3 linked regions of the Homo sapiens genome follow. The protein of the gene in region 2 interacts with the protein of the main gene of each other region in a pairwise test. Each region holds a gene or a part of one and is shown on either strand. Other genes may lie near its edges.

What was found.
Region 1: the proteins of ZRANB1 (region 2) and ZNF648 interact in binary tests that used the Homo sapiens proteins (3 or more experiments, as listed by UniProt).
Region 3: the proteins of ZRANB1 (region 2) and CCDC13 interact in binary tests that used the Homo sapiens proteins (3 or more experiments, as listed by UniProt).

What each region holds. Positions count from the first base shown.
Region 1 is NC_000001.11:182,058,175-182,066,644, forward strand, and holds the start of ZNF648 (zinc finger protein 648), read right to left. Parts: upstream 3,539-8,470; 5' UTR 3,394-3,538; intron 1-3,393. UniProt on the Homo sapiens protein: May be involved in transcriptional regulation.
Region 2 is NC_000010.11:124,944,993-124,952,615, forward strand, and holds part of ZRANB1 (ubiquitin thioesterase ZRANB1), read left to right. Parts: intron 1-7,623. UniProt on the Homo sapiens protein: Ubiquitin thioesterase, which specifically hydrolyzes 'Lys-29'-linked and 'Lys-33'-linked diubiquitin. Also cleaves 'Lys-63'-linked chains, but with 40-fold less efficiency compared to 'Lys-29'-linked ones.
Region 3 is NC_000003.12:42,734,716-42,742,338, forward strand, and holds part of CCDC13 (coiled-coil domain-containing protein 13), read right to left. Parts: intron 6,373-7,623; exon of another isoform or gene 6,260-6,372; intron 5,096-6,259; coding exon 4,919-5,095; intron 1,199-4,918; coding exon 992-1,198; intron 713-991; coding exon of another isoform or gene 674-712; exon of another isoform or gene 190-673; intron 1-189. UniProt on the Homo sapiens protein: Required for primary cilia formation and promotes the localization of the ciliopathy protein BBS4 to both centriolar satellites and cilia.

The DNA.
Region 1 (8,470 bases), on a different chromosome or scaffold from region 2:
GTCTCCATGTCAGGCATATTGTTGAGCCTCACTGAGGACAGAGGCCTGGCTCTGCTGAAAATTCCAGTCATCCTATTCCCTCTGGAGATCCCACTTGCTATAAGCCCCAGGAGACCATGCTGTCAGGAATAGCCAGGGTGGGGCATTTGCTGGGTGCCAGCTGTGCCTTGTCCTGTCTAGGGTGCTCATCCCCAACCACTAACCAAATGTGTCCTTTGTCAGCATGGGGGACAACTCGATGAGAGGGTAGGAACCAAGCTGTGGTCCTCCTAAGACACTCTTACAGTGTCCCCCACTCAGGAAGCTGGAAACCAGGCTGGCTTTTGCTGTCCCTGCCAGGAATGGAAGTCTGCCATCCCATGATGGTGTCAGCTAGGGTTACCTCTCAGGCCCTGGGCTGTGTAGGCCACCTCTTCCAAAGATAAGGAGCAGCCCTTGGGAGAATGAGGGTGAGTCAGGAAGGCACCAGTTGCCCCTCACTGATTAAGCGGGGCTTCTCAGGCCCTTGTAACTTCTGAGGAACTCCTAACTGCCAGGAAGGCTACCCATAAGCACCCGGGGGCAGAGGATGCCCACTGAGAGCTTGACCTGTCTTTGAAATTTTGCTTCATCATAAACATTCAGGAGAGTTTACATTTTATGTCTCATTTTTGTTTTTGTTTTTAATTGAGTCGGAGTCTCGCTCTGTCACCCAGGCTGGAGTGCAGTGGCGCGATCTTGGCTCACTGCAACCTCTGCCTCCCGGTTCAAGTGATTCTCTGCCTCAGCCTCTTGAGTAGCTGGGATTACAGGTGCCCACCACCATGCCCGGCTAATTTTTGTATTTTTAGTAGATACAGGGTTTCACCATCTTGGCCAGGCTGGTCTTGAACTCCTGACCTTGTGATCCACCTGCCTCGGCCTCCCGAAGTGCTGGGATTACAGGCATGAGCCACTGTGCCCTGCCAGTCGCATTTGTTTTATAGAAAATAGTATTAAAGTTACCTGGGTTTAAATGTTTAATCTTCCCCCAAGTGTGCCATATTGATCCCCTGGCATACCACAGATGTCCACTGGGGTACACATCTCCTGACTCAAGAAGCCAGATGTAGGATTTCAAACATAATGCATGAGACATGAGAGCCATTTGGGTTTTATTTTCAAACTTATTTTATTTTAGCTTGAAGACATGGAGAAAGCCTGCTGGAGGATTGGTTAACAAGGATTGGATGAGTGACAGATTTTAAAGGAGTTACTAGAGAGGCAGGGTACTGAGGGCCTCTCCAGGGGGACAACTGTTGACCAGAGGGCTAAATCTGCTTTAGTCTGGAGAGAAACTTCTGAGAATCCCAGAGGGGGTATTAAAACTCTCATTTTTCTGGGCACACGTTATGAGCCAGCCACTATGCTGAGTGCTTCACAAACATAATTTCATTTATTCCTCTCAGCAAACTTTAAGATAGATGCTATTGGGAGGCCGAGGCAGACGGATGATGAGGTCAAGAGATTGAGACCATTCTGGCTAACACGGTGAAACCCCGTCTCTACTAAAAATACAAAAAAATTAGCTGGGCATGGTGGCGGAGCTTGCAGTGAGCTGAGATCGCGCCACTGCACTCCAGCCTGGGTGACAGAGCGAGACTACATCTCAAAAAAAAAAAAAAAGATAGATGCTATTATTACTATATTATTCTTTCAATTTTACAGACCAGGAAACTGAGCTTTATTGAGGTTACTTACCTGCCCAAGGCCACACAGCTCATAGACAGCAGCAGTGGGGTTTCTCTCTAATTTTAAGGCCATTAAGCCCCAAATGGTCCTGCCTCCCAGCTGTGGCCTTCAGACTGAAGCCTGCTCTGGGGCTGGGCTCTGCCCAAGAGCAGCTGCAGCATCCTGGGGTGAAAAGCCGTGGCTTTCTGCAGGCATCAAAGCCCCTTGTGTTTTCTGGGCCAAGGAACCTTGGCTACAGGGCCTCACTGCTGGGCTCCTCCCTGCTTTCATTGACCCAGATTGCCCTCCGCCAAAGAGAGAGGCCAGTGGCTGCCCATCAGAGCCAGGACCCATGTTGCAGAGGCCACTGCCTGTGGTGCTCAAGAGTATTAGTCACTGAGTATTTACCTTCTGAAAGCTCCTTCTCTCTACCTCTGCCCACCTTTCACTGCCATCTCAGACTGGATAAAAGGAGTGATCTTTGTATTTGGCTGGTACAGTTAACCCTATCCCCATCTCATTAAACTGTTCTTCCCTGGTTTCTGCCTGATCATGAGCCCAGTTACCCTGTGTGTATGAAGAGGGAGCAGTATGGAGGAATCCTCACTTTCTGCTCTGGATACAGAAGCCATGGATGGAGGGAGGACACATTGCAGTTGTGACTGGAATTCAGCATCTCACGTCTCTTTGTGCCCTAAAGCCCAGGGACCACTCCTCTTCTCTCACTGCTTCCCTCACCCATCACATGGCAGAGGGTAGCTGGCATGCCTTTTGACAGGAGCCCAGATCTGACATATTTTCAGCATAGTGGATCTTAGGGAGTGAATGTGTAGTTCATAGAGGGGACATACCACTAGCCAACCTCATAGAACTTGCTCAGACCAGCAGGCTTGATCCGGGGCTGTAGGTCCCCCAGCAGGGACAGCAAAGGGATGCTGGATTTGTATGAAACACATGTCTTAGGTCTCTTTCCCTCTTTACGACAACATACTGCCTGTTTCTGTGGCACTGTTCACAGATCACTGACTTTACCCGCTCCCCACCCCACCTCCAGCACAAATACCCCATTTTCCACAGTCTGTGTGTCATTCTTTTCCTCTGGGCCACAGGGGAGCCTCCTTAGGGTGGCACACAGCCCTCCACTAGCTAACCAATCTCCTCTCCAGAGCCCGTCAGGAGACTCTCTTTTCAGATGAGGTATCCCTCCTCCATCTGAAGCCATATCCCCAGTGAATATGTCCTGCTTTCTTCCTCCTGTCGCTGCCACACGCATGCTCTCGACCACCAGGAAGACCTGGAGGCAGGCAGGGGCACAGGGAGGGATTTTCTGGCAAAGTCTGCACAAATATACCTGGTCTGAAAGAGGAACACTGATGCCATGGTATGGCGGGCCTCTCTGCTCCCCAGATGTGCTAGTCCCCAGAGGCTGTCAGAGCAGTCCTTTGCTGGAACTTCCTCTGCACTTGCCAGCCAAGAGTGGACCAAATGCAGCCTTTGACTCCCCAACCTCATACATCCATCAACACTCTGCAGAAGCCTACCCTAAGGGCTTGTTGCAACCCCAGCCCATACCCCTCTTCTTTCCTTCATTCTTTCCAGATTGTACTGAAGTCCATCCTAGGCAGCCGCCTCCTACTTTCTTCTCTGCTCACCGCCTTCAGGCCTTGCTCTCCACTCCTGGCTCACACACAGACGGTTGCTTACCTGGGAAATGCAGACAGCAGTGTGGGGCCTCTGCCCTGGCTTCTGTGACACGTGGGCTCTCAGCAACAGGAACCAGTTAGGTACAAATCAGCAGAGATGGTGTCTCTGTCTCTCACGCTTTGTGTCCAGTCCAGCGGCTGCAGAGAGAGCCTCTGGAGGTGGGGCCAGTGTAATACACTCAACCTTCCTGCCTGCATCCAGAGAGCAGCCTGGGAAATAGAGTGGGGCTGCCCTCTCTCACTGCCTGAACCGATCCTCTGGCTCCCTCTGCTCCTGCCTCCCCTCCCTGCCAAAGCCAGCCTTCCTCCTTCCCTCCTCTCAGTCTTCCTGCAGGTGGCCCTATGCCTCTTGTTCACTTTCACTCCTTCCTTCCACAGAGCAGTCCATCCTTCACTTTAGCCCTGGTATGCCCATGGGCCACATGTCACTTGTGAGCTTCCTGGGTAGCATGCTTTTTCCCTCCTGGAAGGCAGAACAGAGTATTTGGCCTATATGCCCACCTCCCTATTCTAGTACCCACCTTTTGCAGGACTGTGAGTTGCAGAACTGTGAGGGGTTGGGATTCCCAGAATTCTTTGTAGCAGCCCATTCATTGGCTCAAAGATGCCCACAGCCTTTTAACTGGGAGTAGGGGTGCAGGGAGATGGTTTTCTGTCTTATGCATACAGATGCCAGGCCTGTCTGGGGTCTCTTTCCACTTTCAGCATTGATTCCCATGCAGGTTCATTTTGAAGAGAAGGATTGGCCCAAGGTAGAAGACTCAGTACATTCAGAATTTTTACCCACTCAAGTCTAATGTGCATTTATTAGGATGAACATTCAGGGCATTAAAATAGGTGATGGAAGTGTGGTTCCTGTGATGTCACTAGGTGGTCACAAAGTATACTGATTGACAGCACGGTCTGGGTCTGGGTTTGAATCTTACTACTTACTAGCTGTGTGATCTTGGGCAAGTTATTTAACCTCTGTGTGCCTTAGTGTCTCATCTGCAAAACAGGGACCAGGATACTATTGCCATCATGGAAGTTTGGGGAGTATTAAATGAGATAATGCATGTAAGGAGCTTAGTTCGGTGTTTGGAACATAGCAAGTACCCAAAAACGTTAGCTGCTTTCATTGTTATTATTGACGATTTTTAAAAATTTTAAGTTCCGGGATACATGTGCAGGATATGCAGGTTTGTTACATAGGTAAACATGTGCCATGCTGGTTTGCTGCACCTATCAACCCTTCCTTCACCTAGGTATTAAGCCCGGCATGCATTAGCTATTTTTCCTGATGCTCTCTCCACCCCGCACTCCCCCAACTGGCCCCAATATGTGTTGTTCCCCTCCCTGTGTCCATGTGTTCTCACTGTTCAGCTCCCATTTATAAGTGAGAACATGCGGTGTTTGGTTTTCTGTTCCTTTGCCAGTTTGCTGAGGATAATGCCTCCAGCTCCATCCCTGTCCCTGCAAAGGATATGATCCTGTTCCTTTTTATGGCTGCATGGTATTCCATGGTGTATATATACCACATTTTCTTTATCCAGTCTATCATTGATGGGCATTTGGGTTGATTCCAAGTCTGCTATTGTGAATAGTGCGGCATTGAACATATGCATGCATGTATCTTTATAATAGAATTATTTATATTCCTTTGGGTATATTCCCAGTAATGGGATTGTGGATCAAATGGTATTTCTGGTTCTAAATCTTTGAGGAATCGCTATACTGTCTTCCACAATGGTTGAACTAATTTACATTCCCACCAACAGCGTAAAAACGTTGCTATTTCTTCGCAACCTCGCCAGCATCTGTTGTTTCTTGACTTTTTGATAATCGCCATTCTGACTGGCATGAGATGGTATCTCATTGTGGTTTTAATTTGCATTTCTCTAATGATCAGTAATGTTGAGCTCTTTTTTCATGTATTTGTTGGCTGCATGTATGTCTTCTTTTGAGAAGTGTCTATTCACATTCTTTGCCCACTTTTTAATGGGGTTGTTTGTGGGGGGTTTCGTAAATTTGCTTAAGTTCCTTGTAGATTCTGGATATTAGACCTTTGTCAGATGGATAGATTGAAAACATTTTCTCCCATTCTATAGGTTGTCTGTTCACTCTGATGATAGTTTCTTTTGCTGTGCAGAAGCTCATTAGTTTAATTCGATCCCATTTGTCAATTTTTGCTTTTGTTGCAATTGCTTTTGGCAATTTCATAAAATCTTTTCCTATGCCTATGTCCTGAATGTTATTGCCTAGATTTTCTTCTAGGGTTTTTATAGTTTTTGGTTTTACGTTTAAGTCTTTAATTCATCTAGTGTTAATTTTTGTGTAAGGTGTAAGGAAGGGGCCAGTTTCAATTTTGTGCATATGGCTAGCCAGTTCTCCTGGCACCATTTATTAAATAGGGAATCCCTTCCCCATTGCTTGTTTTTGTCAGGTTTTCGGAAGATCAGATGGTTGTAGATGTGTGGTTTTATTTCTAAGTTCTCTTTCTGTTTCATTGGTCTATGTGCCTGTTTTTGTAGCATACCATGCTGTTTTGGTTACTGTAGCCTTGTAGTATAGTTTGAAGTTGGGTAGCATGATGCCTCTAGCTTTGTTATTTTTGCTTAGGATTGTCTTGGCTCTACAAGCTCTTGTTTGGTTCTATATGAATTTTAAAATAGTTTTTTCTAATTCTGTGAAGAATGTCAGTGGTAGTTTAATGGGAATAGCACTGAATCTATAAATTGCTTTGGGCAGTATGGCCATTTTCACAATATTGGTTCTTCCTATTCATTATTGATGATTTTGTTGTTTTTAGGGAAGACATCATTCCAGGGCTGCTTTTATATCCCTGTGGCCCTGTTGAAGCTGCAACTCTTCTGAACAGCAGTTTTCAGAATGTGATCCAGAAAAGCAGGTTTCAATGTCCCCTTGGTGTTTTTAAGGCATGGTTTCAGAGGAAAGAGGCAGGCAGCAGAGACATACCTCTAGGTCTCTGAGTCTGAATATCTGGAATAGGGTTCAAATTCTGAAGTCCATAGAGCCTCTGAAATAAAGTGCAGAATGTGGCAGATATGGGGACATGTGCTGTTCTGACAAGAGGATCCTTGGTAGCCATCCATTTCTTGAAGGGGCCATGATCCAAAAAATGTTGAGAACCATTGGCATTTGGGGAGAGCATGGGATGGGGAGAGTAGGTGAACACTTAAAATAGCTCCCATAGCCACGTTATCAGTTGGTGCTGCCACTAGCCCGCATCCCAACATGGTTGCTCAAAATATCCCAAGTGTCCATATGGTACGGGCTTTGAGCTTCAGCTATCTTTGGCAAGAAAGTACCTAATTCTTCACTGATTGTGAAGGAGCCTGTGGAGATGAAAGTTGGAGCTGGGATGAGTGTGTGTGTGTATGTCCCTCCCATTCCCAGCCTCACAGCAATGGTACATTTATTGAGCAGTTACTAGTGCTAACACTATGCTAGCATGCCACACACAATGCCCCAATTAATCTTCATCACATCCTAACGAAGCAGCTACTACTAGTGTTACCTGCATTTACAGATGGAGGATACAGAGCCATAGGCAGCTTAAGGGCCACAGCCACACAGTTCCTACATAGTGGAGCTGCAATTTGAGCCAAGGTATCAGAGTCTGCACTCTTAACCACTACCACATTAGATTCCCAAACACTGTCCCTCAGAGCCTGCATGCTTGGCCTTTGCTTGACTCTACCCTTATTTCCTCCTGGAAAGTCTTAGTCCCTCCTCCCCAAGGCTATGTGACCTGTGTATCTGTGGTCACTATAGTCATTCCCCCAGAAGGCATTCTTCTCCCTCAGCCTTGCTGCCCAGAGAGATGGTTCCCACTAAGTGCCTGCACAGTCTCATCACCTATTCCTCATTCAGCCTGGACAGCCTGTTTTCCATCATGCTTTATTTCTAGAAACCGTAACAACCGAGTAATTAGCAGACACCTTGGGACTTCCACGTTAAATTGTCCACGTGAGTCCTCCTTGGTTTTCAAGACACACTGGTGTTGCCATCTCACTGGTATGGGATAGTCCACCTAGTGGTGAATGGGACCAGGACTGGCCTGGAGGCTACATCAAGAGACAAGGTGTACACAAGCCCCTTATCTCCCTGAGTCACCTACCCTGATACATCCTCCAAGCCATCTTAAGAACGCTGTTTGGAAGTGCCATGTGCCTTTATCTATGTGAGACTTCACTATCCTAATGAGTGGCACATAGTGGGTGCAGATCAGGCCTCAGATCTGAATCCCAGGTCTTGCCTATCCCACTGGTCAACCTATTGCTCAGACTCCAAGGGACAGGAATCCCTTTTGTTTCCTGGGTGTGTTTCCCTTTTGACAGCACAAGCACATTTACTGTCTCATTTAATCTTTCCAACACTCACTGTAAGGACCACTAGAAATGGAGAGCGGAAGGCCCTTTCCCTAAGGCCACATCCTTTTCCTGCTTTTAGGAACTTCTGAAATCTGTGTCATTCTGCCCAGTTCCTTAAGCATGGAAACAAAGTAGGTGTTCTTTTATGTATTGGTTATTATTTGCAAGTCTGCCTCTAAAATCTGGCAATTCCTCTGAGCTGCTGACTGGCAGTAGTGAAAACAAGGGTCTGCCCGCCTGTCTGGGAAGAGGAAAAAGCAGAGACTGAAGGAGTAACACAAGGCATCTGGGAGAGAGAAGGGCATTTGATGGGCATGGTGCAGGAGCTCATTTGTGCCTATCAATGACATGGACTGGATGGGTGGAGTGGAGTGACGTGGTGGAACATGAGCCACACTGGCCTATGTTCTTCCCCATGCTCTGCTGCCAGCTGTCATCACAGCAATCTGCCTGAGCTGCTTCCAAACAGTGTGAATGGTTGGTGAGGTATACTATCTAATCTTCTTCTTGCCCCAGCCCTTCATCATCCTTGAGGAGGAGTGATAGAGGCAGTTAAGTGGCCAATACATGGTGGAGACTTTAAATATTGTTTTTCATGCAGGCATCAAACTTTGCTGAGTATGAATACACATGCAGAAAGCAGAATTGGACAGGAACTCAGTACACAACCTTGAGTCAGAAAGGCCTGGCTTTAATCCCATTTCT
Region 2 (7,623 bases):
TCCAAATTGAGGGGCAACATACAGTATGATTGTCAGTTAAAAAAATTTAAACAGGAGATACAAAAGGGTTTTGTTATTAGTTTCCTTAGAGATCAAATTGATTTAACATAAAAATTCACCGTTTTGCAAGTGAACAACTCATTTGGCATTTAGTGCATTCACATTGTGTAACCACTACCTCTGTGTTGTTCCAGAACATTTTCATCATCCCAAAAGGAAACTATGTACCCATTAAGCAGTTACTGCCCCCTACCCCTACCCGCTAACCCTTGATAACTGCCAGTCTGCTTTTGGTGTCTGTGGATTTACCTATTCTGGATATTCATATAAATGGAATCTTTACATATCTGTGAGCTTTTATGTTGGGTGTGATTGTCTTTTAATTGCTTGTATGCCTTTGGAACAGTCTTAAAATCATTTTTTTTTTTTTTTTTTTTTTTTTCAGGGAGTAGTGTACTATGAATACTTGGACTACAAGGTGGTGTTATAGTACATGTAGGTTTATAGATGAAAATGAACTAGACTTCATTGTGACGGTTCTTAACCTCACAGTGAAGGTCACTAAACCTCACTAAAGGTCATAGAATCCTTTAGGAATCAGGGCTTCATTTCAACCCCCGGTTGCTTCAAGTCAGTGGATCTCAGGATAAGAACACCTGATTTGAAATATTTTCTTTCCTTGAAACACACAAGTTAGATGAATCAACATGTTTGTCTTTATGACATTATTTCTTCTTGGTCCTGCCTTTTTCTACATATCCTTACTACTTTTGACTAGACGACTAGCCATCCTTGTACCTCTTTGCATTTTATTTATTTTTTTGAGACAGGGTCGCGAGGCTGGAGTGCAGTGCTGCAATCATGGCTCACTGCAGCCTTGACTTCCTAAGCTCAAGCCATCCGCCCACCTCAGCCTCCTGGGTAGCTGGGACTACAGGCGCATACCACCACGCCTGGCAAATTTTTGTATTTTTTTTGGAGAGACGGGGTTTTACCTTGTTACCCAGGCTGGCATCTTATTCCTGTGCTCAAGTGATCCACCCACCTCAGCCTCCCAGAGTGCCAGGATTACAGGGGTAAGCCACTGGGTCCGGCCCATCTCTTTGCATTTTAATCACTGAGTTCAATTTAAAAGTGGAACAAGGCCAGGCACAGTGGCTCAGGTCTGTTAATCCCAGCACTTTGGGAGATTGAGTTGGGCGGGTCACCTGAGGTCGGGAGTTCGAGACCAGCCTGACCAACATGAAGAAACCCCGTCTCTACTAAAAATACAAAATTAGCCGGGCATGGTGGCACATGCCTGTAGTCCCAGCTACCTGGGAGGCTGAGGCAGGAGAATCGCTTGAACCTGGGAGGTGGAGGTTGCAGTGAGCCAAGACTGCACCATTGCACTGCAGCCTGGGCAACAAGAGCAAAACCCTGTCTCAAAAAAAAAAAAAAAAAGAAAAGAAAAGTGGAACAAAAACTTCTACCAATAGGACCAGTATTGGATTTGACGTTGTTTTATTTATAAAATGATTTGTCATTAAGTTGCTGTTTCTACCTGCAAAGTTTCTAGATTCTTAGGGGCAAGGGTTGATTGTATTTGGTTCTTGGTAATGTGGACTATGTCTTTCCTATTGGCAAATAATTTTTACTATTAACTCTACAATGTCATTCTGAACTGTTATACGTAAGGTTATAATTATAGGCCTGTTTCTATGGGATAGCCATATTCTGATGTGTAAACATAACTGAAATATGTTAAATACTTTTTTTAAACTTGTTTACATTGTGTTGGGTTAATTTAAAAAAAGGCTTGAGCAGTAAGACTAACAGAAGTTCACATGTACTCAAAATTAATCTTTACGTCCCTTTTCTGCCTGCCTTATGTTCCCCAGATTTCATTAGATACAGTGTATTTTGGGTTATTGATGTTAAGTGTTTTTTAAAAAATACATCTCTAAAGTAGTATATACACTGAGTATAAAATGTGAGACTTTTCCATTTAAAGTTGGAAAAAAATTGCAACCTCAGGTCAGCTTTGTAGCTGATAAACTAGGAATGAGGAAGATTCAGTTGTTGAGAGGGCAGATGTCAACTAACACATCAGCAGTATCGAGCAAACATATTGACATAGCTGTTGGGTGTTAAGTTTCACATAAGTCATATTATCTTATGTGGTGAGAGGATGTTGGGGACAGCTGTGCCAAAACCTGATATCAGTAGTAGAGCCTGAGGTTGAGAACCAGGGTGGTAAAGGTAGAGGTGTGAATGTAAATGTACAGTTGTCTCTGGAATGTCTGCAGTTGGTACTAGATGTTTTTAGGTACATCAGGTTTTTAGGGCGGTCATGTGAGCACTCACCATAGACTGCTTTTCTCACTGGGTAGACAATAATGTATCTAGAGAATAGAGCAGCACTACCTAATGCCCTGCTTTTGTTCTGCTATTGTATTGAATCAGTTGCCTTATGAAATTGCACTTCAATTTGTGTACATAGATACGTCCTTAAAAAGACACAGGGTTAGATAAGAACACCATATTAAATCTGTGCTGTAATGTGTATTCCTGAATCCTAGACTCATATATCCAGCTGCCTATTCAGCATCTTTCCTGGAGTGTTTAAAAACTCAAGCTCATTTCAAGCTCAGTAATGCTAAAACAGAACTGATCTCTCCTTCAAATCTATTTTTTCCCAGGCTCTCATCTTGGTTGATGGCAAATTTCTCATTCCATTGCTTGTGCCAAAAGCCTTGGCCCTCCTTGATTCTTCTTTCTCTTATGCCCCACTTCTATTTCTGAGAAGATTCTTTGGCTCTACCTTCAAAATATATCTGTACTCTGACCACTTCTCACTATTCTTGTCCAAACCATGATCTACCCTTGCCTTTGCCCTCCGTACAATCTGCTGTCATCAGAGGAGCTAATTCTTCTCAGAACCCTCTAGTGATCACCTGTTTTACTTGGATTAAAAGCCAGAGTCCCTCAAAAACTCTACAAGGCCATCTACATGCTCTGTATTGCACACTTCAGCTTCCCTCCATATACTTTTGACCCTTGAATAACACAGGTCTGAACTGTGCGCGTCCACTTATACGTGAGTTTTCTACCAGCTCTGCCACCCCTGAGACAGCAAGAATAATGCCTCTTCTTCCTCCTCCCCCTCCTCAGCCTACTCAAGGTGAAGATGATGATGATGAAGACCTTTATGATGAGCCACTTTGACTTAATGAGTTGGTAAATGTATTTTCTCTTCCTTATGATTTTCTTAATAACATTTTCTTTTCTCTAATGTATTACAAGAATACAGTGTATAATACATATACAAATATGTGTTCGACTGTTTATGCTATTAGTAAGGCTTCCGGTCAACAGTAGGCTATCAGTATTTTGGGGGGAGTTAAAAGTTATACATGGATTTTCTACTGTGTGGGAGATTGGTCCCCCTAATCTCCATGTTGTTCAAGGGCCAAATATAGTTTATCTCTGAACTAATCTGTTTTCCACCTTTTCCATTTCATTCCAGCCACTCTTGCCACCTTTTTTTTTTTTCCTATAAATAAGCCTCAAGCCTTTTACTTGCTGTTTGCTCTGCCTGGATTGCTCTCCACCTTCGCTTCTTTTCTCATGTATTGCCTTCTCAATGAGGTCCTCCATGACTGCCGTATCTAAAATTTCATCCCTGTCCATTATCCCTCCCCACAGCATTAATTTTCTTCATAACACTTCTAATATGCTTCATCATCTTGTTTATTATTTGTCTCTCTCTACTCTAGAATTTAAGCTTCCTGAGGGCCAGTAATTTTATGTTTTGTTCAAAGCTGTATCTTAGTATGTACAACAGTGCCTGCTACATACATACTAGGCACTCAGGTATTTTTATATCAATGAACGAATGAATATTTTTGGGAACTAGGGTCTGGGCAAACCTTTATCCTACTCCTCCTATGAATTTCTAGATTCTTTGCCTGCTTCCTAGCTCTCTATGTTTTTCAATAGTTGGGGCTCAACCCAGGAGAGCCAGTTTTACTTCTCACTGGTTGTCAGGAAGACTGAGGTAAGTAGTGGGTATGAAAGGGTCTTACAGGAAAGGGTATAGAGGCTTCAGTTTATCACCAGGCAGTCTATGGACATGAAAAGTCTAAAGTCAGGTTTATGTTTAATTTCTCTACCTCCCTACTTTCACTCATGGCAATATTTGTTTTTTCAAAAAAATCATTCTATGTGTTTGCTATAACTATCAAATGAGATTTTTACTTGAAATATTTTATTCAGTTGTCATTGGACCTGCTGCTTCCTAGTTGGCGTTTATCTTACTTCCTAAACAATAGCTGCATCTTTCTTAAGTTTAGGAGCTGAGATTTGGTTGGGGCTGTTGAAGGTATAGGGGGAAAAAAATCAAACTTAAGTAACAAGTTCACATTGAAACTATGTATACACATATATATGTATATATATATGTTTACACACATATGTATATATATATGTTTACACACACATATATGTATATATATTCACGTATACACACACACACACACACACACACACATTTTTTTTTTTTTTTTGAGACAGGATCTTGCTCTGTTGCCCATGCTGGAGTGCAGTGGTGCGATCACAGCTCACTGCAGCCTTGACCTCCTGGGCTTAAGCAGTCCTCCCACCTCAGCTTCCCTAGTAGCTGGGCGTACAGGTGTATACCACCATGCCCCGCCAATTTTAAAAATGATTTGTAGAGATGGGGTCTCTCTGTGTTGCCCAGGCTGGTTTCAGACTCCTGGACTCAAGTACTGGGACTGCAGTTGTGAGCCACCACCTGGCCTGAAACTGGAATTTTTATGCTGAAATACTCAGTTGCCCAATAGCAGTGGTATGAACAGCTTTCACTATAGGGAATATGTGAATCAGTAATGCCTCCCGGTGCTCTGAAGTTTTGGGGTGACGTGAAGTGCACATGCAGTGGTGTTCCCTGTTGAAAATCAATGACTTACGGACTGAACCAGAATCTCTTCTTTATCAAGTAGCAGGATGAAGTGGCATCATGAGGATTATAATTCTGATGGTTTCTGAGCAAAATTTGTCCCACTTTCAGAATTTTGACATGTCTGTAAAGACTTAGATGATTTTTATTGTTTTATTTTTTAATTAATTAACTAATTAACTTTTTTGAGGCAAGGTGGTCTCACTGTCTCCCAGGCTAGAGTGCAGTGGTGTGTGATCTTGGCTCACTTCAATCTCTGCCTCCTGGGCTCAAGCAATTCTCCTACCTCAGCCACCCAGGTAGATGGGACTACAGACGTGCACCACCACGCCTGGCTAATTTTGCATTTTTTGTAGAGATGAGGTTTCCCCTTGTTGCCCAGGCTGGTCTCAAACTCCTGGGTTCAAGCAGCCCGCCCGCCTCGGTCTCCCAAAGTGCTGGGATTACAGGTGTGAGCCACTGTGCCTGGTCTTACATGATTTTTAAAACATAGAACATGTATTGGTAACGTTTTCTTATATTAGTTGTCTGCAAAAATATTGTTATATTTAATCTATTATTTTCCCTTTTCTCATAACTTAATTGTGTTGAGAATCAATGTTTGAGGCAAATCCATTTGGATTCTAATTGTATTTGGGCCTCTTGCCAGAAATCCGTATAACGTGTCATATGGTGTCTGTCCACTCTAGAGTGCCAAGTGTAACTCTAGAAATATCTAAATATTTCCACAGTTTCTGGATGGGTCTGGATATGGTGGCTCAGTCCTGTAATCCCAGCACTGTGGGAGGTTGAGAAGAGGGGAGGATCGTTTCAGCCTAGGACTCTAAAACCAACCTGGGCAACTTGGCGAGACCTCGTCTCTATAAAAAATAAAAAAAATTAGCAGGACATGGTGGTGTTCCCATGTGGTCCCCACCTATGCAGGAGGCTGGGATGGGAGGAACACTTGCGCCCAGGCTGCAGCGGGCCATGATTGTGTCACTGCATTGCAGCCTGGGTGACAGAGCAAGACCATGTCTTAAAACTTGCATGGTATTAAATATGTCAGAAGGTATTTGTCCATTTGGTTTTACTTACACACCTTGTTTAAAAAAAAAAATAGCAAAGTGTAGGCGTATTACATTTTAAAATATTCTTTTCAATTTGTTTTGGTATTGATATTAAGAATTACGTATATAGATGGACATTTACAATTTGTCAGAGGTTTTTCTCAAGTAAATTATTAAATTAGTATTACTTTTTTCTCTGGAGAAACAAAACCGTTGCAAAATGTAATCTTCTATAATGATTTTTTTAAAAAAAGTTTCTACTGTTGAAATATGTGCCTGGTGTAATGAAAGGGAGGTTGTACAATAATCCAAACAAAATTAAATTAACTTCTGTGAAGGAAAAGTCATTTAGTTTTTGAGAGATTATATTCCTTTGAACTGGAATGATTTTAAAGTGATTTATATTACCAAGAAAATTACCATGTCAAAACGGAAAAGGAAATCCTTGCATTGGACACTGGTGATTTTGCCCATTTAAGACATCTTTGGGGTGACTTTTTAACTTGAGAGAAAACTCAGGGCATACAAACGATTGTGAAGAAAAAAATAGAAGAGGCTTCTATTCTCTAGTTCATTACTCCTTAGCTTTAAAAATTATTTCTTTCACAAGGATATTTTATTGATGACTTACCTGAAGGCACAAAACATTTGGTGTTTTTAAAAACACACCATCTGCTGGTCGCGGTGGCTCATGCCTGTAATCCCAGCACTTTGGGAGAGCGGGGCGGTCGGATCACTTGAGGTCAGGAGTTCAAGACCAGCCTGGCCAACATGGTGAAACCTCGTCTCTACTGAAAATACAAAAATTAGCTGGGTGTGGTGGCGGGCATCTGTAATCCCAGCTACTTGGGAGGCTGAGGCAGAAGAATCTCTTGGACCTGGGAGGCGGAGGTTGCAGTGAGCTGAGATCATGCCACCGCACTCCAGCCCGGGCAACAAAGTGAAACTCTGTCTCAAAATAAATAAATAAATAAAAACAAAAAAATAAAAACAGTATTGATGAAATAAGTTATAATGTCCAAATTTACATTTTTAACTTGCCCATTGACTTCCTTATAGGTTCATCTCCCTCTACCCCCTCTTTGGGCTTTTTGGGTGATTTGCATGACCAATATAAATAGAGTGGCAGGCAAGATAATGTCCACACCCCACCTCCCCATGCGTGCGTCCCAGTCCCCAGGATTTGTGAGTATGCCACCTTACGTGGCAAAAGAGATTTTACAGAAGTGATTAAAGGTTGCTTAAATGGCAGGGTTATCTGGGTGGGTGGTGTAATCACAAGCGTCCTTGTAAATCACAGCGGGAGACAGGAGAGTGAAGATTATAGATGGGACCATGAGAAGAGAAGCGGAGGCTTGAGAGAGTTGCAGGGCCCTGAGGCAAGGAATGCCAGCAGCCTCTAGGAGAAAAGGCAAGGCTTTTCTAGAGCCTCATGAAGGAGCACAGCCTTCCCAACACCTTGATTTTAGCTCAGTGAGAGCCTTGCTGAACTTCTGACCTCCTGAATTCTAAGACAGAAAGTTTGTGTTGTTTTAAGTCACTAAGGTTGTAATCATTGTTTGAGCAGCAATAAGAAATTAATACAAATAGCTTTTTTAAAAACAAATAATATCT
Region 3 (7,623 bases), on a different chromosome or scaffold from region 2:
ATTTCCCAGTGGGCCAGAGGCTGCAAGGCTCCTTTGTCACTGGGAGACCTGCATGCCTGTCAAGAAATTCTCCCCAAGGACACCACCCAGCCCCACCACCACCCCAGGGAGGTGAAGGTGCCTGACTCCTAGCAGCCCCAAGCTGTGCCCTCAAGGCACCTGCCAAGACAAAATATCTTTACAAGCTCATGCCTTAGACAAGCATTTATTGAGCATCTACTGTGTGCTTGCTCCAGTGCCAGGCACTGAGGCACCACGGTCTGTGCTCCCTTACAGAGAGTGCAGGGGAGAAAACAGGAAAATGACTACACAGCGTGAGAGAAGTTTGGTTTGGGGATGCATAGGGAGTTAGGAGAGTGCCTAGGAGGGGAACACAACACAGAACAGGGGTCCTGGGGCTTCCTGGAGGAGCTCCTGACTAGGTAAGACCTAAAGGCTGAGGGGCAGCCGGCCAGACCGAGGCCGTGGGGGAGGAGGGGAGGGAGTGTGCTTCACGCTGCGCGTAGCCCTGGAGTGCGGAGCAAGCAGGAGCTGAATGGTGCCTGGGTAGCAGAGTGTAGGGAAAGGGGAGGGGTGAAGAGAAGATGCAGGAGGGGTGGCAGCAAGAGTTAGTCACATGGTGCCTAGAAGCTGAATGAAGTGTGGCTTTCCTTCTCTCATCCTGCTGCTGGAGCTACTGCCACCATCTTGAATCCTGAGGATAAGGCCACAGCTGGGGATGGGAGAGGGTAAACTGGAAGGTGCCTGGGTCCTTGAGAACCAGGTGAGGTCGAGGGTGACAGTAAGCCATGAACAGATTTTAAGTAGAGCAAGGACACAATCAGGTTTGTGTGCAGAATGGGTTGGGGAGCCAGATAGAAGCAGGTGGCCAAAGTGGAGCCAGGAAGGATGAAGTCTGGCCTGAGCTAAGGCAAGTGGAAAGAAGTGGAAGGAGCTGGATGGACTTGCCCGGCTTGAAAATGGGTTTGGGCGCTGCCAGTGCCCTACTCACGTGCACATTGAGTTGTCCGATCTCCATCTCCAGCTGTCGCACTTTGGCCTCCCGCTCAGCTACCATGGCCTGCAGCTGGGCGACTAGGCTGTTGCTCCGCTGAGCCTCGCTGTTCAGTTGCTGGTCCAGGTGGTGCTGGGACACTCGCGTTTTCTCCTCCTGCAGACTCAGGCTGCCTAGGATCTCCTGTAGCTGCTTCAGCTGGTCCTGGGGGGCCAGGCAGGAGGGCAGGTGGAGTCAGTCATGGCCCTTTGGGCCGGGGAGGACAAGAACAGACTGCCTCCCTCACCCCAAAGCAGGCTGCAGGAACCTAACAGTGGGATCCTGTTCCCTCGAGAGGCAGGAACACCTTCCTTGCCTGCCATCAGGGGATGTTGAATCAGGCAGGTGGGGACCATGTTCTTTTCCTGTCCTCAACTTCCTTCTCTGAGTTTGGGGCCAAGAAGATCCAAGGGGCTCTCAGACAACAGAAAGTAGATCAGATGGTGACTCCTCACCCGGTGGGGGAGATATTTAGCTAAAAGAAAAGCCTGATCCTGCTTGGCTGGGAGACTGCCCTTGGAGGCAGTACCTGGACCCCTGCCAGGGATCCATTAGCACCTGACTGAAGCCTCATCCCAAGGAAAAGCCCTCAAGGAGACTCCTGGGCAAAGGCTTCCTGCCTAGGGCCAACAGAAAGGACAATGTCAGTGATTTGGAACAGGTGGGGGCTGTTGTCTTCACCTCAGAGTGGAGGAAACTGAGGCCCAGAGAGTCCAAGGGCATATTGCTGGTGAATAGCATGACTGGGACTAGTTTGCAGCTCTCATCATGCCACTTTCAATGACAAAGAATGGTGACATGCAGGGACCTCAGAGGACATCCAGCCCTGCGACTTATTTTTAAAACTGGCTGCTGAGCCTCAGAGGGGATGCGACTGGCCTATGGTCACACAGTGAGATACTGACAGAGGCAGGCCTAGATTTCTGGTCTTCTGTGCCCCGCTCACCACCCTATCATGTAAAGTGATCATGAACTAAGGTAGGTGCCTGAGCCAGCACCCCCCAAACACCCCAGCCAAGCCAGACATGATCACCCGCCCCGGGCCTGCAGGCACAACTTGGAATCTGACACCAAACTTTGGTGCCTCGGGTCCCACAGAGAAAAGTCCAAGCTGTAGGGTTAGGAAAGCAGTATGGCCTTACTAATCAAGGAAGTTTTTGTTTTTGTTGTTGTTGTTGTTTTATACATAAGTTGTAGGGTACATGTGCACAACGTGCAGGTTTGATACATAGGTATACATATGCCATGTTGGTTTGCTGCACCCATCAACTCATCATTTACATTAGGTATTTCTCCTAATGCTATCCCTCCCCCAGCCCCCCACCCACCGACAGGCCCTGGTGTGTGATGTTCCCCGCCCTGTGTCCAAGTGATCTCATTGTTCAATTCCCACCTATGAGTGAGAACATGCGGTGTTTGGTTTTCTGTCCTTGTGATAGTTTGCTGAGAATGATGGTTTCCAGCTTCATCCATATCCCTGCAAAGGACATGAACTCATCCTTTTTTATGGCTGCATATTATTCCATGGTGTACATGTGCCACATTTTCTTAATCCAGTCTATTACTGATGGACATTTGGGTTGGTTCCAAGTCTTTGCTATTGTGGATAGTGCCGCAGTAAACATACGTGTGCATGCGTCTTTATAGTAGCATGATTTATAATCCTTTGGGTATATACCCAGTAATGGGATTGCTGGATCAAATGGTATTTCTAGTTCTAGATCCTTGAGGAATCGCCACACTGTCTTCCACAATGGTTGAACTAATTCACAGTCCCACCAACAGTGTAAAAGCATTCCTATTTCTCCACATCCTCTCCAGCACCTGTTGTTTCCTGACTTTTTAATGATTGCCCTTCTAACTGGTGTGAGATGGTATCTCATTGTGGTTTTGATTTGCATTTCTCTGATGGCCAGTGATGATGAGCATTTTTTCAAGTGTCTGTTGGCTGCACAGATGTCTTCTTTTGAGAAGCGTCTGTTCATATCCTTCGCCCACTTTTTGATGGGGTTGTTTTTTTCTTGTAAATTTGTTTGAGTTCTTTGTAGATTCTGGATATTAGCCCTTTGTCAGATGGGTAGATTGCAAAAATTTTATCCCATTCTTTAGGTTGCCTGTTCACTCTGATGGTAGTTTCTTTTGCCATGCAGAAGCTCTTTAGTTTAATTAGATCCCATTTGTCTATTTTGGCTTTTGCTGCCATTGCTTTTGGTGTTTTAGTCATGAAGTCCTTGCCCATGCCTATGTCCTGAATGGTATTTCCTAGCTTTTCTTCTAGGGTTTTTATGGTCTTAGGTCTAACATTTAAATCTTTAATCCATCTTGAATTAATTTTTGTATAAGGTGTAAGGAAGGGATCCAGTTTCAGCTTTCTACATATGGCTAGCCAGTTTTCCCAGCACCACTTATTAAATAGGGAATCCTTCCCCCATTTCTTGTTTTTGTCAGGTTTGTCAAAGATCAGATGGTTGTAGATGTGTGGTGTTATTTCTGAGGCCTCTGTTCTGTTCCATTGGTCTATATATCTGTTTTGGTACCAGTACCATGCTGTTTTGGTTACTGTAGCCTTGTAGTATAGTTTGAAGTCAGGTACTATGATCCCTCCAGCTTTGTTCTTTTTGCTTAGGATTGTCTTGGCAATGTGGGCTCTTTTTTGATTCCATATGAACTTTAAAGTAGTTTTTTCCAATTCTGTGAAGAAAGTCATTGGTAGCTTGATGGGGATGGCACTGAATCTATAAATTACTTTGGGCAGTATGGCCATTTTCATGATATTGACTCTTCCTACCCATGAGCATGGAATATTCTTCCATTTGTTTGTGTCCTCTTTTATTTCATTGAGCAGTGGTTTGTAGTTCTTCTTGAAGAGGTTCTTCACATCCCTTTTAAGTTGGATTCCTAGGTATTTTATTCTCTTTGAAGCAGTTGTGAATGGGAGTTCACTCATGATTTGACTCTCTGTTTGTCTGTTACTGGTGTATAGGAATGCTTGGGATTTTTGCACATTGATTTTGTATCCTGAGACTCCTGAAGTTGCTTATCAGCTTAAGGAGATTTTGGGCTGAGATGATGGGGTTTTCTAAATATACAATCATGTCATCTGCAAACAGGAACAATTTGACTTCCTCATTTCCTATTTGAATACCCTTTATTTCTTTCTCTTGCCTGATCGCCCTGGCCAGAACTTCCAACACTATGTTGAATAGGAGTGGTGAGAGAGGGCATCCTTGTCCTGTGCTGGTTTTCAAAGGGAATGCTTCCAGTTTTTGCCCATTCAGTATGATATTGGCTGTGGGTTTGTCATAAATAGCTCTTATTATTTTGAGATACGTTTAATCCAGGAAGTTTTTATAGTCAGATAAACCTGCTTTGAACTCAGTTGTATGGTCTTAGATGAGTTATCTAATGAATTTGAGTCTTAGTTTCCCCATCTGTGAAGTGGGATTAAAATATATGATCCTAGAAGTTATCTTAGGGACTAAGCATTATAACATGCCCAGAAGAGGAAGGGTTCTGTGCCACTGCAGAGATAAGAACTGGTACTGGCTCCTCTTGTCCCTTTCATTCCTTGCTGAAAAATAACCCAGGGTATAATCCCACCTCCTTCCCCCAATACATTTCTGTCTCTTTTGGGGTCCATAGGCCCAGTGCCTTGTGCCTGGTGCTGCTCCATCACAGCCCCCTACCTGCCCTCAGGCAGCCTCCCTGAGCTGCTCCTGTCCCTGGGGCAGGGCTTTGGTACTGGGGGCCATCTGGAGGCAACGGGCTTTGGGGTTACACAGGTGGCATTGAGGGGTGAGTGAGGGCTCACTCTGGCCATGGCTGGGGCCCATCCTTTGAGGAACCACCCCTGGCTCTCGCCCTGCCTGAGTGGTGGGGCCATACCATGAGGGCGTCGATGAGCTCGTCATCATGCCGGCCCTTCTCCACCAGGGTTCCCATCTGACTCTTGAGGGTCTTCATCTCACTTGACAGCAGCTTGTTCCGAGACCTCATGCCCTCGAACTTCTTTTTTAGCTCTTCAAGCTCTCTCTGGAGGACATCCCGTTCACTGGCAAGTTTCTGTAATTAGAAAGTGAGGGCATGGGCAGCAGGGCTGTGTGGGACCTTGGCCACATCTGCTCCCTGGCTCCTACTCAATGGCAAGGCCCGGGGCTGGGGGTGGGGGTGCTTGTTGAATGCCACAGAGCAAGTCACTAGAGCCAGGGCCCTGACTCCCAGCCCAGGCCTCTCAGGGATATCAGGTGGCCAGCAGCCTCCCACCCTTCCCCTAGCACATGACAGCACTAACCCATGACAGCACTCCTAACCTCAGCCTGAGACACAGACTTCCTAGCACATGAGAGGAAAGCCGCCAGCCAACTGCGTGTGTCCTCCAGAGAGCACAGCCAGTCCTACCCCTAAGCCCCTCCCCAAGCAGGGGAAAAGAGAAAAGCCATACTTTAGAAAAAGAGTGCTGGGCTAGGTTCCAACTGCAGCACCTTGCACCACCAGGAGCTAGAATGAGAAAGGAGGGTCTTTTCTCCCACTTCCTCCATGATTATTTGGCACAACCCCTGACAGCACCTTGCTTTGTCAGCTACCAACTGGAAACTCACATGCAGCACACATCTTCGGAGTCTCTCATTCAATCATCCCTTCATTCTCGAGGGTTTCCTGAGGGCCTACTATGGGTTTCCTGAGGTTTCCTACTATGGTTTCCTGAGGGCCTACTATGGGCTTAGTATTGTTATAGATGCTGGGGGACAGCAAAAAGCAAAACAGTCCTTGTCCTCAAGGAGCTGATAATCCTAATGGAGGAGACAGATAATGTCAAATAGTGACAAATGCTAATTTGAAAGTAGGAAACAGGAATAGCGAGAAGGATATGGTCAGGTAAGGCCTTTCTGAAAAGGTGGCATCTGAGCAGAGACTGAAGGAGATGAAGGGAAGAGCAAAGGCCCTGGGGTAGAAGGTGTGTGGCTGGAGCACAGTGAGTGAAGGGGCAGAGGTTAGATTAGGCAAACCCATAAAGACAAGATGGAGACATTGGGGAGGAGCTTGGGCAGTGGGTGACATCACCTGCTTGATCCTGAGGGTGAATTGTTGCTGGAAAAGTATTTTCATATCCTTGATGAAGTGAATTATAGAAATGCAAAACAAGTAAAACATGAATCTATAGGACACAAGCCCTTTGCAGGGAGGCAGCCATTACTCACCTGTTGCTCTCCTGCCTACACACTCCAGGCTCTTATGGGTGCCTGCCAGAGGGAATGCATGCAGGAAGCTGTTTCCTTCCACCCGCTATTGCAGCTTATGGTCAGCCCAACTGTTCAACATAATCTGTTCTGCACTAACATGTAAGTTCAAGCTAGGTGCATTTCAAACCCAGCATTTCCAAATCTCAACTCCCTTTCTCTTCTTGAACCCACCCTGTCTCCCTTACCCACCCACTATACTCCCTAGAAGTCCTTTATAACTCTTCCTCCTCATCTCTCTTCCAAGTCCAATCAGTCCTTGAGCCCTAGAAAGTCTGTCCTCACTGTCCCAGGTGTCTGGCCCTTCCATGACAGTCCACTATCTTGGCAAAGATCTTTGGTCATGTCTCCAGGATTACTATTCTGCCTTCCATTCCTCTTCCAACCCATTCCTCCTCTTGCTCCAACCATGTGACCTTTCCAAAATGCACAGCTGACCACCTCCCTCCACAAATTAAAACCCTGTCGTGGGCTCGGCGAATGGCTCACACCTGTAATCCCAGCACTTTGTGAGGCCGAGGCAGGTGGATCACCTGACGTTAGGAATTTGAGACCAGCCTGACCAACACAGTGAAACCCTGTCTCTACTAAATATATAAAAATTAGCCGGGCATGGTGGCAGGTGCCTGTAATCCCAGCTACTTGGGAGGCTGAGGCAGGAGAATCACTTGAACCCCGGAGGCGGAGGTTGCAGTAAGCCAAGATCACACCATTGCACTCCAGCCTGGGCAACAGAGCGAGACTCTATCTAAAAAAAAACAAAAACCGTTTGGTGGTTCTCCACAGCCTTCAAGATACAGGCCAAAAGTCCTGGCTGGCATACAAAGCCCAGCAGGCCCTGTCCACTTCTGTGGTCTCACTGTTTCCCTCCTCACAGCTGATGGTCTACAGCGCTGGGAGGTGCAATGTGGTCATGGTTACAGCATTCCTAACACAGGGCCTAACCCAGCGTTGGTGCTCACAGGCAAAAGTCTCCAGATGAAAAGGCAAGTCCTCACTGTTAGGTAGCTCACTGCCAGGGCCACTACGTGGGCCTGTTGTATGGCCTGCCTGCACCTCTTCATGCTGCTTCTGTTACCTTCTTTAAAGTGGCCCCTACTCCCTACTCTCATTGCAAGTTTGGGGAGGCTAACTCATCCCCTCAAACCTTGGGGCAGGTGTCTGAAGCTTGACCAATCAAAACACCCTGTACTCTTGGCTACAGTGATGGGCTCAAGGATGGTCACATAACCCAGGCTAGACCAAAGACACTCAATTCTGGGACTTTGTTGGAACTATTGGGAAAGAGAAACCCTTTGTCTGTAGAGGCTGCATTGGAGGAGAGAAGCTGGGACTACCCAGGGTCCTTGTGGA